2 linked regions of the Homo sapiens genome follow. The protein of the gene in region 2 interacts with the protein of the main gene of each other region in a pairwise test. Each region holds a gene or a part of one and is shown on either strand. Other genes may lie near its edges.

What was found.
Region 1: the proteins of UBE2W (region 2) and RNF103 interact in a two-hybrid assay, tested with the Homo sapiens proteins (one large-scale study listed by BioGRID and IntAct).

The regions. Positions count from the first base shown.
Region 1 is NC_000002.12:86,617,366-86,620,865, reverse strand, and holds part of RNF103 (E3 ubiquitin-protein ligase RNF103), read left to right. Parts: intron 1-396; coding exon 397-536; intron 537-2,852; coding exon of another isoform or gene 2,853-2,855; exon of another isoform or gene 2,856-3,500. Other genes in the region: RNF103-CHMP3 protein, read left to right, coding at 405-536. UniProt on the Homo sapiens protein: Acts as an E2-dependent E3 ubiquitin-protein ligase, probably involved in the ER-associated protein degradation pathway.
Region 2 is NC_000008.11:73,788,791-73,791,862, reverse strand, and holds part of UBE2W (ubiquitin-conjugating enzyme E2 W), read left to right. Parts: 3' UTR 1-3,072. UniProt on the Homo sapiens protein: Accepts ubiquitin from the E1 complex and catalyzes its covalent attachment to other proteins.

The DNA.
Region 1 (3,500 bases), on a different chromosome or scaffold from region 2:
TATAAGCCATACTGTTTAAAAATGTATATGAAGCCTGTATGTGTCATTCATAAAACTAAATAATTAAGAAAGTTGTGCCTTTTTGGAGTGGTACAAATTTGGTAAGTTCCTAATAATTATGTGATAACCCCACTAAAATATAAGCCCTGTTCTATAAGAGATGGATTTTTGTCTATTTTGTTCACTTTTCCCTGATGCATAGGAAGTTCTTACTACATATTTATTGAATGTATGACTCCTAAGTGGGTATATCCAGGTTCTTCTAGTAGTTCTTGTCTATAAAATACAATGAAAGTACAATATCATGATTCTTAACAGTGTAAAAAATAGAATTACTGAAATTGGGAATCTAGGATTCTTGCAACCTTATTAGTGTTATTCTTTTCCTTTCTTCAGGTGACTTGATGGAGGGTGAGCTCTATTCTGCTCTCAAGGAAGAAGAAGCATCCGAATCGGTTTCTAGTACCAATTTCAGTGGTGAAATGCACTTCTATGAGCTTGTGGAAGACACAAAAGATGGCATCTGGCTGGTTCAGGTATGAAAAGCAGTAATAATTTGATAATTCGAGAGCCCTAAAAAAATTATTTTTACCAAAATAGTATGTACCAGCCAGTGACACTTCCGTGTCCTTGTGTCTTGTTTCTCACACATAACTCAGTTCTCTTAGGGAGGCTCCAGTATCTTCTTAAAAAGGTTTTGGAGACTGAGGAAGATGAAAATTGAGTAGTGGGAAAGAGAAAGATGGGGGATGGGGGTCAACTTTTTGTTTAGAATCCCCAGAAGCAAATCTATTTTAGTTATTGGACCTTTGTTGAATTGAGAAATACACATATATATCCCTTTTATTTAGTGATTTGCACTGTTTCTCTTAGTTTTTATTATCTCCAGTTTTTAATTCAGTGGCCTGAGTAATTTTTATATATAAGTAAGAACCCTAAAGTAAAAGTAAAGGAATCATTGTATTAGGGAAATAGCCAACTTTGTGACTATAGAGGAGCTGTTGTGGAAAATGGTGGGGGTGCTCATTACGTAACTCAGGATGATGAGATTATAATTTTTAACCCTTGTTTTTATGATAGCAAAACTGTGAGACTTAATTAGCATATTAGAATTTTAGAGCTATGATGGACCTTAAAAATATTTTATGCTTTCCAAGATGTAATTTATGGTGAGTGGGCATGCATTATCATTTACATATTTTAATGTAAATTAGAAAAATTATATTAACATAAATTTCATAAATTTTGCTTAGGACAGGACTAAAGTTATTTACATTTTAAAACTGTACATTCAAAGTGACATATCAAGTAAATTAACAGCGTGAATGTGGCTAAAATTATTAATGTAGTCTGTGAATGGCTGAAGCTTGGAAATTATATCAGACTAACCCTTTCTGAGACTCTGAGAGGTGAAGTAGCTTGCCCAAGGTCATGGAACTAGTTGGTAGTATTGAACCAGGATGAAACCCAGGTCTTCTGATTTCTTGACTGGTACTCTTATCATTTCACACTGGAGTGGGCAAAGTTTGATTCAGGGCATGAAAATTAAAACAGTTTCTTCATATTTCTTTCTGAGAGTAAAGACTGCAAAATATGGTAGGAAAAGCTATGAGTTCAGAGACATTAGTTGCAGGTCTGGTACTGTCGCTGTTACAGGTCTGGTACTGTCACTGACTAGCAGTATGATTGTAAATAGGTATATTTTTCTGTTGCACGTGGCCTCAAATAAATACATATACATCTAAAAAGGATAAAATGGTACTGTAGTCCACTGTGCTAAAGGGTTGAGGTTTGGGAATTCTTCCAGAGATTTACATTGTTCATCCATGGCCTTTCTTTATTGTATCCTTCCTATTGCATTTGTCCTTTTACCTTCCGGATAATCTAATTCAGTAATTTTTAAGTTCAGCAATGGGAGAGAATGTGAGAGTATGAGTGTAGTCTATACATTATCTATTTAAATTTTAGTTTATTTCTGTGTCAGTTGGAGTTGAAAAATAAGGTGGAGCTTTTTTAAAGCTTTAATGTATAAGTATATTGTTATTCTGTTTCTTTTCTCTGGTACTTATTTCTAATAGTCTGATTGAGAAAGACACTGGTTTTGATAATTTTAGATTTTATTACTGAGGATGAATTGAATAGCCAGTCCCACTGCCCTGCTTTCAGTGTCTAAATGTCACCCACATTGAATGATCCCATGGAAATAAATGGTGAAGATGTTGCACACCTTTGAAACTTGGAAGGGCTATGTCAAAAGTCTTGAGTTCTTTTGCTATATAGGCTGCTGCCTATAGACAACAAATACATTCTGGTTCAATAGTTAGCAGTATGTTCTTGGCTTGTAAATGATCTACTGTTTTTGATGTCCTGTTAAAGATATCCATGAATTAAGCTCCTGTAATAAATATGTGACAGAATTCATCAAAAGTTTATTCAGTTGTGGGTGTGCCAGGCCCTGTTCTGGGCCCTGAAGATATACCAGAAACACACACCAAGCTAAGGCCTTGCTCTGTCAGGCAGCTCACATTCTAGTTGGGAGAGGCAGACACCAAATAAATAAATATTTAATATAACATCAGTTAGTGGAAAGTAGTAAGAAGAAAAATAAGCAGATTAAGGAGATGAGAGTGGCAAGGAATTCTCTGGTAAGGTGACAAATGAAGTGAAGGACAAATAATGATAGTAAATGGTAGCATTATAAATTCTAGTTGCTAAATTTTTTTTCTCTGAAAATATTTTTAAACCTTATAGGTATTAATAGTTGAAAAACAACTCTTTAAAAATAGAATGTATTTCTGTGGTTTTTCTATGTATGGAAATAATGCAGTAGGACACCTGCTTAATTTTTCCAGTGATGCTCAAGGTTTGCATTGACCACCACTGTCTGGCTTGTGTTCCTTGAGGCCAGTGGCTTACATCTGTCAAATGGCTGGCCTGGTCTGAAAGAACAATCTCTGGCAGGACAACTGAGAAGAATGAGATTGAAACCCTGTCCTTGGCACTGTGAACTAGCCAGCTAAGCCAATCAGCACAGCCACCTTGGTTTAAGCCCTTAAAAGAGGGTTGTACTTTTTAAAACTATGCTTAAAATTGAAAATATCTACTAGAAACAGAAGAGAAATATTGTCTCCATTGCTTGCCATTCTTTCAGCTCAGATCATATATATTAATCTATTGTAAAGGATAACTTTCAAGAATTGTTTTTAACAATTTGAATTGTTGTTATTTTCTGTTTACAGTAGTCCCCCCTTATCTGAGGGGGATGCGTTCCAAGACCCCCAGTGGATGCCTGAAACCGTGGATAGTACCAAATCCTATATAGTCTATGTTTTTTCCTATACATACATACCTGTGATAAAGTTTAATGTGTAAGTTAGGCACAGTAACAACAACAACTAATAAAAATAGAACAATTATAACAGTATACTGAAATAACATTTATGTAAATGTGGTGTCTCTCTCTCCGAATATCTAATTGTATGTAGTATTTTCGGACTGCA
Region 2 (3,072 bases):
ATAAATACCATAAAGTAAACTAAAATGACACAGAGGAAAGTAGAGGAAAATGAAATAATTTCGGTACATCTTATGGTTTAAAGAGTAGAAAATAAGATGAAATATCCTAAAATATAGGAGCACAGACATTTAAAATTCATAATCAGGCTAACAACACTCTCTTGAATTTAGGAATCATTGAAAACTCCTTGCACTTAGATTTAATTTATATGTTAGTTACATTATTAAAAGTCATAAGGCATTTATCTGAGTCATTGCTCTACAGAGAGCAATTAATGGCTTGTAATAATAAAAAGAATATTTCTCTGTAATGCATTGTTGAAAGACAACCAGAATATCAAGAAAATGTATATAGGAATATGCTACTTGCCTCCTCCCTGCATTTCCTCGTGGGGCACTATTTGCGACATAGGCCTACAGAATTAGACTTTCATACTTAGAAGATAAGGTACACTCTTCTTCTTTTATTTATTTATTTATTTATTTTTAGGCCATTCTTCTGGTTTGCCAAATTCTATTAAGACAGTGATACATTTGCTTCCTTATTTATGCATGCTTAGATCATGAACATGATGCCCTTCTTTTTTTTTTTTTTCTTTGGTCAAGTAGGGATTAATGCCATAGGTTTAGAGAGAAGGATTGTTTTCAGTTTTTAAGAGAATTTTTTAAAAATACATTTTATGGTTCTCTTAAGGAATTAATATTCACTTCTGAAGGACTTACTTGTAATATATAATTTATCATTTTAGCCAGCAGGGAAATAAATCATTTTTAATCCCCAGAAGAAAGTGCTGGAAATAGCTTCTATATAGTCAGCAGTTCACCTGGAGAAAGATCTTAATTCCTTGTTGTTTTGACTAGGAATATCAATATTTGGTATAAAATAACTAGAATAGTTTATTACCTTTTCCCTCATGAAATTTTAAATATATGCAAATATATATATCATTAGATTCCTGTGGTGGATAATAATTTCTTCAGATTCTAAAACAGGTGTCTAGTGACTGCTTAATTGTTTCCAAGTTGCATCAAAGATGAATTGGTAAATAATGGAAATGAGTAGTGATATGAAAATGGTTATGTAACTACATATTACTTGTTTCTGGTAATCAAGTCTTATTTTTTAAAAGCCTATTGTTTTTCAGAATTGAGATATTTAAAACTTGTTATAACTTCTTCCTAAAAATAGAAGAGAAGAGGAGGTACTGTGTGTTACAAAAATTTTTTTAAATAAAGAATTCAGTGTCACTAGTTCTAAGCCTTTATGGTTACTGCTGCTTATATTTCTTGATCTCACTTTCATTAATTTTTTTGTACATATCTTAGCTGAATGCTTAAAATTTACAATTATTTGTAATTGTGTATGTAAATTGCTTTTCAAAAAGAACTGAAGCTTAACCATATTCTTCTTTTCTGAGGATTCATTATCAGAATCAGCTACTATACTGTTCTGTGTTATAGTAATGCCGTTACTGCCTGTGCATGATTGAGGTCTGTGAAGAAGGTGTCTTTTAATCTGCACCAACTGGCCCCAATCCTCTTTGTAGTCCTTTTTAAATTGTTTTAAATCTGTCCTTTATTTTTCTTCCTATTTTTCTGCCTCTTCCCACTGATGTCCAATGTGTCAGTCTTCCGCAGTTTCCTTTTCTCACTTCTAATTTATTCTCTCTTTTTTTTTTCTGAGGTTAGGGATTCTACAGAAGGACGATTATTAAAATTATGCCATGAATTTTTGAAAAATTTAAAATGCTCTCCTACAAATAAAATACATGGAGTTTCTGATACTAATTTCAGTTTGTCAGTAGATGGCTAAATTTGTTGAATAATTGACTACTTGGTAAATGAGCTGTTAGCTGTAATTAGTTCTTTAGTACTAATATTAAGGAAATTTTGTTATTTTCGGATGAGGACTCTCCCAAAGCCAAATTATTGTCCAAGCAAATTATTTATTTTTTCCATTTAAATTTCTAAGTCATTTTGAGATGTGGAATGATTATTTTTATTATTTATTTATTTATTTATTTTTGAGACGGAGTCTTGCTCTGTCACCCGGGCTTTAGTGCAGTGCACGATCTTGGCTCATTTCAATCTCCACCTCCTGGGTCTAAGCGATTCTCCTGCCTCAGCCTCTTGAGTAGCTGGGATTACAGGCATGTGCTGCCACACCTGACTAATTTTTAGTAGAGACAAGGTTTCACCGTGTTGGCCAGGCTGGTGTTGAACTCCTGACTTCAAGTGATCTGCCCACCTCAGCCTCCCAAAGTGCTGCGATTACAGGCATGACCCACCACACCCAGCCTGGAATCATTTTTTAAAAATAATTTGTGGGAGACTTGCTTTCTCAACATAAATTGTGTGTGGGTTGTTTTTTGTTTTTTGAGACGGTCTTCCTCTGTTGCCCAGGCTGGAGTGTGCAGTGGAACAGTCATTGCAGCCTTGACCACCTTGGCTCAAGCAATCCTCCTGCCTCCCGGGTAGCTGAGTCTACAGGTGTGTGCCACCATGCCTGGATGGATAGAATTTTTTTTTTTTTTTTTTTTTTTTTTTTTTTTTTTAAAGACACGAGGTCTCACCATGTTGCCCAGGCTGATCTTGAATTCCTGGGCTCAAGCATTCCTCCTGCCTCAGCCTCCCAAAATGCTGGGATTACAGGTGCAAGCCACCATGCCTCGTCTGTTTGCCGATTTAAGACAGGTTTATGTACATCATTATCATTAGAGGCACATAGAATCTAGACATGTACTTGAAACTTAGCTCTCTATCCTGAAAGTTGAAGTTAGGGTTCTTTGATCCTGGTGAGATGTTAATTGTAATTTTAATTTTCATATGTTAATATTGTGACTTGTATTTTGTGATGAGTCTCTAGAATGATTAAATGACTATTTTTTTATGAAAAATTTTTTGTTAATAAAATATCTGAGGGTATTTTGAGTATGTGGAAGGAATGCCTGAATAGAAGCTGATCTATCTTAACATACCTCAAGAACTCCAGTTTTAATATGGTGAGTGAGGAGTTGACTGGGAAAAGGAGAGATCCAATTCTTGTTCTAGTCCTTGGCACATACACTCTCT